2 linked regions of the Homo sapiens genome follow. The protein of the gene in region 2 binds, or shares a complex with, the protein of the main gene of each other region. Links are inferred from orthologs where the notes say so. Each region holds a gene or a part of one and is shown on either strand. Other genes may lie near its edges.

Region 1 (7,031 bases), on a different chromosome or scaffold from region 2:
GGGGCGCCCATCCACCTGTGGGACTGCAGACCCAGGCGCCCACCTGTGGGGCTGCAGACCCGGGCGCCCACCTGTGGGGCTGCAGACCCGGGCGCCCACCTGTGGGACTGCAGACCCGGGGCGTCCACCTGTAGGACTGCAGACCCGGGCACCCACCTGTAGGACTGCAGGATGTCGATGATGCCAATGTGCAGCAGCAGCCGCTCCCCGCGGCCGTTCACAGCGGGGATCCCGCCCATCCTGGGGAGAGAGGCCGAGGGTACCATCAGCATCCCGCAGAGCTGGGACTCGGGGCAGGCGGGGCTGGGGACTCCAGGGCTAGGGAGTCCATCTGCTCCTGTGGGTGGCAACTTGGCCAAGCTCTCGGAGTGGGGCCTGGCACCCGGGAACCTCTGTCCTGACATCCCTCCATCACCCCCAGCCTCAAACCCAGGCCCAGGCACTGCTGAGGAGTCCCAGCTAGGAGGCCTGGGCACATACCCCCTACACACACGTGTGCCTGGACACACACATGCACACACACGCACACTGCATGCCCAGGTAGGGCCACGGGGTCTCAGGTACAGACTGGGGAGTTAATTGTCACCCGGCACCATGCCCACACGTCCCCTGCCCAGCGCGGGAGTTAACTGTCACCCGGCACCATGCCCACACGTCCCCTGCCCAGCGCGGGAGTTAACTGTCACCCGGCACCATGCCCACACGTCCCCTGCCCAGCGCGGGAGTTAACTGTCACCCGGCACCATGCCCACACGTCCCCTGCCCAGCGCGGGAGTTAACTGTCACCCGGCACCATGCCCACACGTCCCCTGCCCAGCGCGGGAGTTAACTGTCACCCGGCACCGTGCCCACACGTCCCCTGCCCAGCGCGGGAGTTAACTGTCACCCGGCACCGTGCCCACACGTCCCCTGCCCAGCGCGGGAGTTAACTGTCACCCGGCACCGTGCCCACACGTCCCCTGCCCAGCGCGGGAGTTAACTGTCACCCGGCACCGTGCCCACACGTCCCCTGCCCAGCGCGGGAGTTAACTGTCACCCGGCACCATGCCCACACGTCCCCTGCCCAGCGCGGGAGTTAACTGTCACCCGGCACCGTGCCCACACGTCCCCTGCCCAGCGCGGGAGTTAACTGTCACCCGGCACCGTGCCCACACGTCCCCTGCCCAGCGCGGGAGTTAACTGTCACCCGGCACCGTGCCCACACGTCCCCTGCCCAGCGCGGGAGTTAACTGTCACCCGGCACCGTGCCCACACGTCCCCTGCCCAGCGCGGGAGTTAACTGTCACCCGGCACCGTGCCCACACGTCCCCTGCCCAGCGCGGGAGTTAACTGTCACCCGGCACCGTGCCCACACGTCCCCTGCCCAGCGCGGGAGTTAACTGTCACCCGGCACCGTGCCCACACGTCCCCTGCCCAGCGCGGTTAGTGAGGCCACACGTGCAGCAGTCATCCTGAAGCCACTGGGACCCAGACCCGCTGGGCTGGCGCCCTGCACGCTCTGCTCACGCCACAGGCTGGTACGCTCACCTGCTCCCCCGCCAGGCCAGCGAAGACCCTACAAACGCCAGGATGGTCTGAGGGGGAGCTGTGCCTGGCCTTGGCTCCCGCACCCCCCCGCAGCTACACCCTGGTTGGGGCCCCGGCTCCTCCTCTGCCATCCATGGGAAATACCACCACCGCTGCAAACCAAAGCCCAGCTGGTGGCCTAGTGCCAGCCAGTGCCAGCCAGCACCGTCCCTGGGGCCAGGCCAGGTGGAACTTGGCTCCACACCTTCGTGGCTGCACTGGGGAAGGCTGCCCCCCAACCTAGGAGCCTATTTCCTCAGCTGGAAACAGGGGAAGCCCACCTCCCTCCTCCAAGGCCGCTGTGAAGACTGAACAGGTACCAAAGTGAAGGCTCGGGCCTGCCCCCACTGTCAGGGTGCTGCTGTGACCAGGGCACAATCTCAGCACTGCTATACGACACCTGTCTATCCCGCATCCGGGGCCATGTCTGGGGACATCTGTGGTTGTCACAACTGGGGGGTGCTCCTGGCCCGGAGTGGGTGGAGGCCCGGGACGCTGCTCAGCACCCTGCAGTGCCCAGGACAGCCCCACCCCAGAGAATGACCCAGCCCTCACATCCAGTGTCCCAGGAGAGCTCTGTGAGTATCTCCCCAGCCAAACCCTGAGCCCTGTGAGGGCAGGGCCTGCCTGGTCCCTCTGCCCCTGGTGTCCAGCAGACATGACTGCAGGCCACTGAGATGTGGCCTCCTCTCTCCACCACCGTTCCTATCTTCTGTGGCAGCCACTTTTTTTTTCTTTTTGGACAGAGTTTAGCTCTTGTTGCCCAGGCTGGAGTGCAATAGCTCAATCTCAGCTCACTGCAACCTCCACCTCCTGGGTTCAAGCGATTCTCCTGCCTCAGCCTCCCAAGTAGCTGGGATTACAGGCGTGCACCACCACGCCCAGCTAATATTTTGTATTAAGCAGAGATGGGGTTTCACCATGTTGGCCAGGCTGGTCTGGAACTCCTGACCTCAGATGATCCACCTGCCTCAGCCTCCCAAAGTGCTGGGATTACAGGTGTGAGCCACCGCGCCCAGCGTTTTTTTTTTTTTTTTTAAGACAGGGTCTCACTCTGTTGCCCAAGCTGGAGTGCAGTGGTGTGATCTTGGCTCACTGCAACCTCCGCCTGCCACGCTCACGCCTGCCACGCCTTCAGCCTCCCAAGTAGTTGGGACTACAGGTGCACGTGCCACCACGTCCAGCTACATTTTATATTTTTTGTAGAGATGGGGTCTTGCCATGTTGCCCAGGCTGGTACTGAACTCCGGGGCTGAGGCAATCCTCCCACCTTGGTCTCCCAAGGTGCTGGGAGTACAGGCATGAGACACTGCGCCCAGCCAGCAGCTGCTTTGATCTGTGTGGAATCGGATTTTGCAGTCCCTCTGCTTCGTGGGCTGTGTCCTGCTGTGAGCCCTGCCTCGCCCGATCCCTCTGGCCTCCCATGCGCCTTCCACACCTTTGTGGCCCCTCTCTGCACGGGTGGCGTGTAGACCCCTCTGAGTGCCACCGGGAAACGCTATCTCTCTCTCATTCCTGTGGATGGCCAGTGGCCTCGGCCCAGTCACGGGTGAATGGGAAACGCCCCCACCATTGCAAGCCAAGGCCCGGAACCCTGCACTCAGCCTGCGGCCCGCACTACGGCCTGGCTTCGCTCTGAGGCGCTGGCACAAGGCTCCCAGACTCTGTCTGTCACCCACGCATGCCCTCGCCAGCCCTCCCTGCCTGTTTTCACACTTGGGACGGGGATGGGGAACTGGAGCCTGTGGGGAAGGGAAGCGGGACGGGTCCGGCGGCCCCCCGCCCACCTACGTGTCATCCGATTCGATGGCCTCCCCGCGCGCGGCGCCACCCTGGATGGACTCCATGGCCGTGGAGTAGAGCGCCTTCTGGCCCACAGGCCGCTTCTCATCTGAGGTGCTCTGGGCGCCCTGCGCCTGCCGCTCGCGCTCGTGCTGGTCGATGTTGTGCACGCCCAGCAGCAGGCTGTAGTCCATGATCTTGAAACTTTCCAGGACCTGGCGGGATCGGGCAGGAACACGCCACGCCGTCAGCCGTCTCTATCCCCCACAACGGCTCCCGGACCCTATGGGGTTCCCAGCACGGATGGCCCCGTGGGCTCGGGTGTGAGAGATGGAGTCCCACGGCCAGGCAGGAGTGGGGGTTCTAGTGTTATCCTGAGGAACAGAGGGGCTGCGGTCACACAGCGGCATCAGAGCAGGCCAGAGAATGGGGGCTTCCAGCCTCACAGCAGGCTGCCCCGGGCACTGAGACAGGGACTTCCCTTCCTGGCTTTACTCCTTCCTGAGAGACAGGGAGCCGGGCCTATGCTCTGACCAGCCCAGGCCCATGGGCAAGGACGTGCCCGGCCTGACAGGTGACACCCAGGTGGGTGGATGCCCAGGGTAGCCTCAAGGCCCCTGAGTGGTCTGGGCGGTTTTCTGGGGGTATGGGTCAAGTTCTCAAAGGGGTCGGGGAGCTGGGGATGGTCAGCAGCGGGGCCTGGGTGGAGTTGGGGAGCTGGGAGGTCCCAGGCTCTGCTCCTGACAGGCTGGGGCCTCCCCTCCTTGGCTCCATGCCTCGAAGCTGCCGGGGTGGGACGGGGACGACGGAGCTAACCCAGGCAGAGGAAGAGCCGTGCATATCATTCTTTCGCTAACACGGAGCCAACGCAGGCTCCACGGGGACAGGAGCCAGACCCTCACTGGACGCACATGGGCCCTCACTGTGGCCTGCAGAGCAAGCAGTCATCCCATTTGATGGGTGAGGAAACTGAGGCACAGCAAGCTCTCATGGCTGGCTGGGAGCTCTGGGCTTGTGACCACAGCATCTGAAGGCTGGGCTCTTCTCTGGGGGGTGGGGGGACTCTACCACTGTCATCGTGTAACCTCCAGAGGAACCACTTCTCAGCAGTGCAGACACTCCCGACCCCCAAGGGCTGGGTCTGGGGACATGTTATAAGTGTTTTGTTTTCTTTGTGAGATGGGGTCTCACAATGTTGCCCCTGCTGGTCTTGAAACCCTGGGCTCAAGCCATCTGCCTGCCTCCCAAAGAGCTGGGATCCCAGGCGTGAGCCACTGTGTCCGGCCACATTTTAGGTTAAGGCCATAAAAGCTTGAGCGCTTCTGGATCCCACACTGGGGTGGGGCCTGCTGTAGGCTGCAGGGCAGGTGGGCCTCGGCCTGGCACCCTCCCTGGCCCTGCCTGCCCAGGCCGAGCCCTCACCACGCAGTCCCACCTGCCACCCTCCCTCCCCGGCCGGGGCCGAGCCCTCACCAGGCAGTCCCGCTGCAGCGTCTTGACCAGGGCGCTGAAGGTGTCGGCGTCCAGCAGGAGCCCCTCGGGCATGTCCTGCATGAAGTCCAGGTCCTTGTAGGTGGGGAAGCTCTTCTCCTTCTCCTTCTTGCTGGCGCGCCGCTTGTAGGTGGAGCCCTTGAGGTCGAACTTGAGGTGCATCTTGACCACGCGGGGCAGGATGTTGTTCATGACCACGACGCGGATGTTCTTGCCCCCCGACTGCACGCAGTACAGCCCATAGAACTTGGGCAGCAGCGTCCGCGGGTTCTGGTTGAGGTTCTGCCGGGGGAAGAGGGCAAGTCGTGGAGGGCGGCTGGGCCACAGACTCACGGGGGCGGGCAAAGCAGGCCTCTGCCTCAGGGGGCTCATGGATGCCCCTGGCCAGCCCCCCTCTCTCCCCAGAAGCCCTCGGGGACCCCGTTCCTATGCAGGCACCCAGCTGGCCTTCCCACGGCACCCTGACTCTCATGGGCCACAACTGTGAGCTCCAGGAGGGTCTGTTTCTACAGAGCCAGGCCCCAAGGCAGGCGCTTCTGTTCCAGCAGAAGCTTCCACACTCCCTGCCTGCCCACAGACATCGCCCTGGCTGGGCTCGCCTGTTGGGAGGTCTGGAGGCCGGAAACGCAATGCTGTATCCTAAAATACATACATGTATGTATATGCACACACAAACACATACACACACACGCACACACACATGTATTTTCTTGAGACAGGGTCTCGCTCTGTCGCCCAGGCTGGAGTGCAACGGTGCGATCACAGCTCACTGCAGCCTCCACCTCCAGGGCTCAAACCATCCTCCCACCTCAGCCTCCGAAAGTGCCAGGACTCCAGGCGTGAGCCCAGCCTCTATGTTGGTTATGCTTTGCCTGTGTTGAACTGATCAACTCAGACTTTCACTCCAAATCTGGGTCCCCAGGCGCAGTGACGAGTCTGGGTCCTGCTGTACCCTGTAGACCCCAAGCAGGCACTGGGTGACTCAGGGGCACCCAAGTGAAGCAACAGCGCCCCCTGCCCAGAGCCTCTCAATGACGAACCCAGTGGGAAGCTGCCCAGGTGTCGGGGCTGAGACAGACCCACAGGGAGAGGAGTGAGGGGCGCGGACTCAGGCACCAGCCTGGGCAGGCTAGGTGAACTCCAGCCCCTGGGCCGAATCCGGCCACCACCTATTTTTGTAGGGCTGTGAGCTAAGAATGGTTTTTCCATTTTTAAAAAGTGGAAAGGGCCCAGTGCGATGGCTCATGCCTGTAATCCTAGCACTGTGGGAGGCCGAGGCGGGCGGATCACCTGAGGTCAGGAGTTTGAGACCAGCCTGGCCAACATGGTGAAACCCCGTCTCTATTAAAAATAAAAATTAGCTGGGAGTGGTGGCGCATGCCTGTAATCCCAGCTGCTTGGGAGGCTGAGGCAGGAGAATCACTTGAACCTAGGAGATGGAGGTTGCAGTGAGCCGAGATTGTGCCATTGCATTCCAGCCTGGGCAACAGAGCCAGACTCCATCTCAAAAGAAAAAAAAAAAAAAAGGCCAAGCACAGTGGCTCACATCTATAATCCTAGCACTTTGGGAGGCCAAGGCAGGCAGATCATGAAGTCAGGAGACCAGCTTGACCAACACGGTGAAACCCCATCTCTACTAAAAATACAAAAATTAGCCAGGCGTGGTGGTAGGTGCCTGGAATCACAACTACTCAGGAGGCTGAGGCAGCAGAATCGCTTGAACCCAGGAGGCGGAGCTTGCAGTAAGCCAAGATCACGCCAATGCACTCCAGCCTGGGTGACAGAGCGAGACTCCATCTCAAAAAAAAAAAAAAAAAAAAAAATGAAGAGGCCAGGCGCGGTGGCTCACGCCTATAATTCCAACACTCCAGGAGGCCGAGACAGGCAGATCACGACATCAGGAAATCGAGACCATCCTGGCTAACACGGTGAAACCATGTCTCTACTAAAAATATAAAAAAATAGCCAGGCGTGGTGGCGGGCGCCTGTAGTCCCAGCTACTCGGGAGGCTGAGGCAGGAGAATGGCTTGAACCCAGGAGGGGGAGGCTGCAGTGAGCCAAGATGGCACCACTGCACTCCAGCCTGGGTGACAGAGCGAGACTCCGTCTCAAAACATAAATAAATAAATAAAAAAGTGGAGAAATAGAAAATAGTCTTTGATGACACGTGAAAGTGATATGGAATTCGCATT
Region 2 (7,786 bases):
TTCAAATACTTCTCCAAATAATAAGTTGTGAAGCCAGGATCCGAACCCAGGTTTCTGACTGCAAAGCCCAAGCTTTCTCCACTACGCCAGCCAGCTGGAGATGTGTCAGGGGTAGTTTTCACTCCAGGCAGAGAAATAGCATAAGCAAAGATGGAGAAGCAGTAAATCGTGGAGGAGCATTCAGGGAAGTGAGCAGGCAGGCTGTTGAAGCACAGGGGTACCTGCAAGGGAGCAGTGGTGGGGAAGTCAGGGTTAGGATGGAAAGGCAGAGGAAGACTGGAGAGGGGTATGAGGAATTTTACTTATTGGAGGACAAAAGGAAGCCAAGGGAGTCTTTGAGCAGAGAAGAGACATAACCGGAACTGGATTTTAGAAAAATAACTCTGGCAGTTACCTTGGAGATTAGTTAGAAGGACACTGTATTAGTACAAATTAAAGGTAATGAAGCCGGAGTTGGAATGGCATTGAGGAAGATGTCACTCAGAACAAGTTTGGGGAGGTAGAAATGACAGGACCTAATAACTACTAAGGTAGACAGGTTAGAGTCCCACAGCTTCCTATCATCAGCAGCCACTTTAGCGGCTGGGGCAGCTTGAGTTTAGGCGACGAATTGGGAAGAGGGGAAAGGATCAGGTTGGGCAGAGAATGTGAGGATGAGGCTGTGGTTACGGGATGTGGTTAGGCTGTGGGGAAAAAGGGTATGAGTATATGATTAGTAGCCACTAGGGGCAGATGGGGTTGGGTTAGTGACTGCATCAGGCTGGGAATGGGGAAGACAGGGTGTAGAAAAAGGATGAGAAGACAGGGTGTAGAAAAAGAATGCTGGTGATGATGGTGTTTGGAAAAATACATATACATAAGATACATATATGACCAGTCACTGCATCAGGTTGGGGGAAGGGGAATGATTACATGGATGGTGGCTAAGTCAGGGAATGATGGGGTGAGGTCAGAGGCCAGGTCAGGCTATAGGAGGTTGAGAAGAGCTGGGCCTGTGGTCAGTCACTAAATCAGACTGGGGTGGGGGTGGGAAAGTGAAGGGACATTGGCAATGTCTAAGTAAAGCTGGAGCTGGGATGGGGGATGGGGTACAGCCAGTGGCTGGGTCAGGCTGAGTAGAGGATAGTGCTGTGGTCAGTGGCAGGGTCAGGCTGGGAGTGAAGTGGGGGTGTGGTCAGTGGCCTGGCTGGGCGTGGGATCAGCAAGACCCAGTTTCCTCTTTGGGTCTCGTTTCCTCTTTTCTGTTGGGGAGTGGGGGAAGGGGATCTACAAATGGTCCAAGAAATTAAAAGAGGCTTAGATCCAGGGGGTGACACACAGCAGGGGATGGGAGTAGGGTATTCAGCAGATGACCAGGTGGAATGTAGGTACATGACTGGGTGAAAATGGTAGGAGAGTAATTTAAAATGATGGGAAAGCTCAGGTTTTGATGAGGGTAAATTCAGGTAGGATGTGCGGATTAAAGGTTGGTGAGGGAGGTAGAACTAAGGATGGGAACGGATGATAAGATGAGCATGGGAGAGTTAAAGGCAAGGGAAGTATTTTGTAAGGGGATAGGCAGGATGGGTGTGAAATGCAGAGTCAGGGATGAGAGTTGGAGAGGAGGGCTTAATACCAAGAGAACAAGTGAAGTGGGAGAAGCAGGGCTAAACTTTCAGGGGATTCAGTTATTCCCTTCTCCCATGGCAACAGTGATTCCTTGGTTAGCTTCCCCCATAGTCATCAGCTCCTTCTTCCCTAGGCAGTCCCCAACTTGTGACTAGGCCTTGTACATCCTGGGTCCCTATTTCCCACCTATGTTGTCTGTAAACAACACAGTCCAGAATCTCTGTCCCCTAACTGTGGTGGCCACAGCAAGGGCCTTGGGCTTAGAGAATGGAATAAAGAAGCTGGAATCCCAGATGCCTGCAATTCTAGCTAAAGCCAGAACGCTAGCCTGAAATTAGTTTATCTCTCTGGGTAAAAAGAAGCCCCTGTAACTACATAGGAATAAAGGATTTCCCTACAAAAGAAGGGCATTTACCTACTGCCAACCTCTTAAATTTTATCTGCTCAAGGTCAACTATGCTAGCCTCAAACCACAACCCCTAAAGCTGCCCCAAATTCCTAACATTAACCCCACCTCTAATTTGTTTCCTGATTCCCAGTACCGGCTTGGACATTCATCCCTTTCCTAGCACAGACTCATATCCAATCCCTGATCCCTGAAACTGATCTAAGTTTTGCCTTTAGCACCAAATCCCCTGATGTTAACCCTAAATGTTGACCCCTAAGCCTAAAGTTCATTTATAATTTGATTCCTAACTCACGCTTTCACTGTTTATCCTTAACACCGACCATGCCAACATTCTTTAATCCCTCAAACAAGCTCTAACCTGATTCCTGTTGTTTGTTGACCCTTAACCTGACCCTGAACTCAAATTATGACGTATGATGGCCATCCCAGCAAACAAGATAATGACCGTAATCTAAACCTTACCTATCTAAAACGGACCTGACTCACACTAACTCTTAAGTTTTAACCCCAGCTTTTAACTCCTATAGCGACCCTTGATTCCTAAACGGACCCCACCTAATCCCCAACTCACCCAAAGCTTTCCTACCCACATGCCCGCTATCAGCTAACACCAAAGCCCGTCCCCGCCCTGCGCCCCGCTGCCACCCGACTCCTCACGCTCCCCAAAGCCTATCCCAGACATAGGACTGCTCCCAGGAAAGGCCTGTCTTCCCCAAGACGGCCTACTTCACGCCGAGCTCAAGCCGAGATGCGCTGGACGCTGACCTCTCCAACTAATAGGACCCGAACCGGACACGCAAGAGAGGCAGGGCCCGCCCGCCCCGGGGCCAGGCCCCGCGGCCCCACCCTAAGGCCCCCGCCCGGCCCGGTCTGGCCTACCTGCGCTGCCTGGCTCTGCGCCCCGCCCGCCGGCCCGCCGCCCCGCCGCTTCTCGGGTCGCCCTCGGGCTCCGGCCTCGCCCTCCCTTCGACACTCTCTCGGCCACTTCCGTCCTGGGAACGTCCCCCACCCGCGGGCGGCGCCCTGGGCCCGCGCTCTATGGTCGCGGGGGGCAGGCAGGAAGCTGCTCTGGCCCCGTTCTCGATGCTCGGGAGCCGCCAAAGCCCGGCAGCCCCTCCCTGGCAGGAAGCGAGGGTGCGGCGCAATCCGGAGAGGACGCCAGGACGACGCCCGAGTTCCCTTTCAGGCTAGAACTCTTCCTTTTTCTAGCTTGGGGTAGAAGGCGGAGCCGGAGCCCCGGAACCCCCGCCCTCGGGGTGCGAGGCGGCAGCAGGGCCGTCCCCTACATTTGCATAGCCCCTGGGACGTGGCGCTGCACCCAAGCCTCTTCTCAGTTGGAGGGAACTCCAAGTCCCACAGTGCCACGGGGTGGGGTGCGTCACTTTCGCTGCGTTGGAGGCTGAGGAGAATTGAGCCTGGGAGGCGGGTCCGGAGAGGGCTATGGAAAGCCGCCGGCGGGGAATCCCGGCCGTAGAGGGACAGTGGATAGGTGCCCGAGGCCTACAGCTGGCCTGGGGCTCGTGTCTGGGCTTCGGACGTTGGGGCCCGGTGGCCCACCCTTTCCGTAGTTGTCCCAAATGGAGCTGGAATTGGATGCTGGTGACCAAGACCTGCTGGCCTTCCTGCTAGAGGAAAGTGGAGATTTGGGGACGGCACCCGATGAGGCCGTGAGGGCCCCACTGGACTGGGCGCTGCCGCTTTCTGAGGTAGGTTGGGGTTCTGACTGGGGAAAGCGTGGGATGTCCATGAAGTCAGGTGATGGTGATAAGGTCAAGGCCTGTTCATTGGAACCCTGCGCAGGTACCGAGCGACTGGGAAGTAGATGATTTGCTGTGCTCCCTGCTGAGTCCCCCAGCGTCGTTGAACATTCTCAGCTCCTCCAACCCCTGCCTTGTCCACCATGACCACACCTACTCCCTCCCACGGGAAACTGTCTCTATGGATCTAGGTGAGTCTGAAATAAGTTTGCGGGGAGGACAGGGTTCATGGGCCTGGCTATTCATACTTTCCCTTTTGCAGAGAGTGAGAGCTGTAGAAAAGAGGGGACCCAGATGACTCCACAGCATATGGAGGAGCTGGCAGAGCAGGTACTTGACTTGATTTTCAGGAGATTACTCTCACATTCCCCAGGTGGGGGCAGGATTCCCCATTCCTCTCTGACATCCCCATGCAACTGCCGTCCACTTTCTTGTTACCCTAGGAGATTGCTAGGCTAGTACTGACAGATGAGGAGAAGAGTCTATTGGAGAAGGAGGGGCTTATTCTGCCTGAGACACTTCCTCTCACTAAGGTAAGACTCTCATTGGTTGAACAAAGGCTGAAAAGGGATTAAAAGTCCCAAGTAGGCAAATTCTGTTAACTTTATATCAATAACTTTAAAAAAGGATTGAGGTGAGAAACTTAGTAGATTTATTGCTAATAGGAAGTTGAGGCAGGTACACAATATGCCAGATGCAAGGGCAGATCCTCGTTTTTGTTGGGCTTATACAAATTTTGGTGTTCTGTTAAAAAAATAACTCAAAATTATCAGTGCAACATTAGTATTGGGCCTTGGAAAGGACTGTGTAAGTGAAGGGCCTTGACACTTCGTTGGCTTCATAGTAATCCACCTCTTGCTGAATGGTAGAACTGTTTAGAGAGTTCAACAGGGTTGGACTAAGCAGTACATGAATAAATGTAAAATCCTTAGTTTTCAGTTTTAAGCAATGAGTGGCAACTTCACAAGCAGAGTACTGGGGTACTATGATGAAATCAGTGCTCATTAATAGAAAGGTTACAGGAATATATATATATTTTTTGACAAGGTCTTGCTCTGTTGCCCAGGCTGGAGTGCACTGATGTGATCATGGCTCACTGCAGCCTTGACTTTCTGGGCTTAGGTGATTCTCCCACCTCAGCCTCCCGAGTAGCTGAGACTACAGGTGCACACTACCCTGCCCGGCAATTTTTTTTTTGGTATTTTTAGTAGAAATGGGGTTTTGCCTTGTTGCCAGGCTGGTCTCGAACTCCTGGGCTCAAGTGATCTACCCACCTTGGCCTCCCAAAGTGAAGAATTTTAATTTCTTCAAAGTACAAGATGAGTCAGCAGTGTGATGTGGCTACTAAGAAAGTTCATGGGATTTGGAAACTGTAGCAATAGAGTTATTGTCTCTACAAGTCACTCTCTTGCTTTCCTTGATACTGGCTAGAGCACATCTTTGACAGATACTAAGAGGATGCAGTCTATCCTGAGAAGATGAGTTAAAAATTTTGTCTTTTTTTTTTTCTTTAAGCTCTGAGGAAATGTTAAGTGCCTTAAAATAGCTAAACAGGGTTTATTCTATTTGGCCCCAGAGATACTAGGTAAGTCCAACGGATAGAAATTATAAGGAGGCAGCTGTTGGTTCAGGATAAGGAAGTTTTTATTTGCTTGTTTGAAGACAGGTTCTTGCTTTATTGCCCAGGTTGGAGAATAGTGGCGAGATCATGGCTCACTACAGCTTCAACCTCTCAGGCTCAAGTGATCCTCCTTCCTCAGTCTCCTGAGTAGCAGGGACCACAGGCATGTGCCACCACACCCGGCTAATTTTTTATTTTTAGTAGAGACAAGGTCTCACTATGTTGCTCAGGCTGGTCTCAAACTCCTGGGCTCAACCGGTCCTCCTGTCTTAGCTCCCCAAAGTGTTGGGATTACAGGCATGAGCCACGTCGCCTGAATACTGCCCGACCAGTTTTTTTTTTAATAGTTTAAAATGGTCTGGCTTGTTAGGGTTAACACCTGGTCCGTGGAGGCATTCAGAAAGAATCTGAATGCCTGTTGGTCAGGGAAGCTGTAGAAGGGATTTCTGTATTGGAAAGAGATTGATCTCAGTTGCGTTTCAACTCCTTTTTCTAGAGTTCCTCTAATGATATCCCTTTCCCTGTTTCCTTTCAGACAGAGGAACAAATTCTGAAACGTGTGCGGAGGAAGATTCGAAATAAAAGATCTGCTCAAGAGAGCCGCAGGAAAAAGAAGGTGTATGTTGGGGGTTTAGAGAGCAGGTATGAAAGGGAGAGGGACTCTGTTGTAAGTATTAGGTTTTTGAAGGGAGGATACAGGCCATATCCCCGTATCTTTGTTATTTCCCCCAGGGTCTTGAAATACACAGCCCAGAATATGGAGCTTCAGAACAAAGTACAGCTTCTGGAGGAACAGAATTTGTAAGTATCCCTCCAAACCATTCCCTTCCTATGCCCCTCATTTAATGCTTTCTCACTCTTTCCCCTGCCCTACACTTGATTTCTAACTGGGCAGCTGCCTTCACTAGGTCTCTGATTCCAAGAAGCTCCCAGTAGTGAGGAATACATTTACAAGTAACTAAGAATAAGTTAAGTACCAAGAAAAAGAAAGGGGGTAAGAAAGACGTCATGGGCTTTCATAGTAGTTAGGATTCTGGGGTTGGGTTGGGAAAGCATTCTAGGCAGAGAGAAAGCATCCTAGGCAAGAGGACTAGTCCAGCATAGTCATCTTGGGCTGGAACTCTTAACACACATGAGCTGGGACAGAAGGTAGAGAACATAGAAAATGCCTGGTGAGGATTATGTGCATAGCTGATCAGACAGTGGGGAACGACTGATGATATTCGCAAAGGAGGTTAAGTCCTGGCAGAGTTTTTTTGTTTTGTTTTGTTTTTGCTTTTTGTTGTTGTTGTTGTTTTAATGAGGAACTTCAGGCATTTTGTCCAGAGAGGAAGAAGTCGTTTGCAAAAATAGAATGAAAAGTAAGAGAGAGGATCCAGTGCAGAGATGGAGGAGGTGGCCTGAACAGGAGTTTCACTGTGTCTCAGGATGCTAGGCCAGGGGATGCTCACTATTGGCCCCTCTCTTCCTCTAGGTCCCTTCTAGATCAACTGAGGAAACTCCAGGCCATGGTGATTGAGATATCAAACAAAACCAGCAGCAGCAGCACCTGCATCTTGGTGAGGATGGTGATGAGGGGAGAAATCCTTTTCTCAGTTGGTGGGGACAGGGCAATCCAGAGCCCTTCTTCATCTCCTTTTTCCTGTGCTCTAGGTCCTACTAGTCTCCTTCTGCCTCCTCCTTGTACCTGCTATGTACTCCTCTGACACAAGGGGGAGCCTGCCAGCTGAGCATGGAGGTAAGAGGCTTAAGGATAGCTCTCAGACAGGGCAAGGGGAGAGGTCTGGGTTGGCCTCTGAAGATTCTTTGTCTCCTCAGTGTTGTCCCGCCAGCTTCGTGCCCTCCCCAGTGAGGACCCTTACCAGCTGGAGCTGCCTGCCCTGCAGTCAGAAGTGCCGAAAGACAGCACACACCAGTGGTTGGACGGCTCAGACTGTGTACTCCAGGCCCCTGGCAACACTTCCTGCCTGCTGCATTACATGCCTCAGGCTCCCAGTGCAGAGCCTCCCCTGGAGTGGCCATTCCCTGACCTCTTCTCAGAGCCTCTCTGCCGAGGTCCCATCCTCCCCCTGCAGGCAAATCTCACAAGGAAGGGAGGATGGCTTCCTACTGGTAGCCCCTCTGTCATTTTGCAGGACAGATACTCAGGCTAGATATGAGGATATGTGGGGGGTCTCAGCAGGAGCCTGGGGGGCTCCCCATCTGTGTCCAAATAAAAAGCGGTGGGCAAGGGCTGGCCGCAGCTCCTGTGCCCTGTCAGGACGACTGAGGGCTCAAACACACCACACTTAATGGCTTTCTGGGTCTTTTATTTGTACCCATGTGTCTGTCACACCATGAATGTACCTGGGGAAATCAACTGACCTCCCTGAACATTTCACGCAGTCAGGG

What was found. The genes of interacting proteins can lie anywhere in the genome.
Region 1: the proteins of TLN1 (region 2) and PIP5K1C are in contact, whole or in part, in a crystal structure (PDB 1Y19), measured with the Mus musculus proteins. The link is inferred for Homo sapiens from one-to-one orthologs. Residues at the interface, in NP_035732.2 of Mus musculus: Pro209, Val210, Gln211, Leu212, Leu214; in NP_032870.2 of Mus musculus: Pro646, Leu647, His648, Tyr649, Ser650, Ala651.

Annotation. Positions count from the first base shown.
Region 1 is NC_000019.10:3,648,469-3,655,499, forward strand, and holds part of PIP5K1C (phosphatidylinositol 4-phosphate 5-kinase type-1 gamma), read right to left. Parts: intron 5,122-7,031; coding exon 4,822-5,121; intron 3,564-4,821; coding exon 3,358-3,563; intron 3,283-3,357; exon of another isoform or gene 1,659-3,282; coding exon of another isoform or gene 1,528-1,658; intron 241-1,527; coding exon 157-240; intron 1-156. UniProt on the Homo sapiens protein: Catalyzes the phosphorylation of phosphatidylinositol 4-phosphate (PtdIns(4)P/PI4P) to form phosphatidylinositol 4,5-bisphosphate (PtdIns(4,5)P2/PIP2), a lipid second messenger that regulates several cellular processes such as signal transduction, vesicle trafficking, actin cytoskeleton dynamics, cell adhesion, and cell motility.
Region 2 is NC_000009.12:35,729,179-35,736,964, forward strand, and holds the start of TLN1 (talin-1), read right to left. Parts: upstream 3,018-7,786; 5' UTR 2,897-3,017; intron 1-2,896. Other genes in the region: CREB3 (cyclic AMP-responsive element-binding protein 3), read left to right, coding at 3,595-3,723, 3,818-3,965, 4,037-4,104, 4,218-4,307, 5,931-6,037, 6,128-6,196, 6,870-6,954, 7,049-7,133 and 1 more. UniProt on the Homo sapiens protein: High molecular weight cytoskeletal protein concentrated at regions of cell-matrix and cell-cell contacts. Involved in connections of major cytoskeletal structures to the plasma membrane.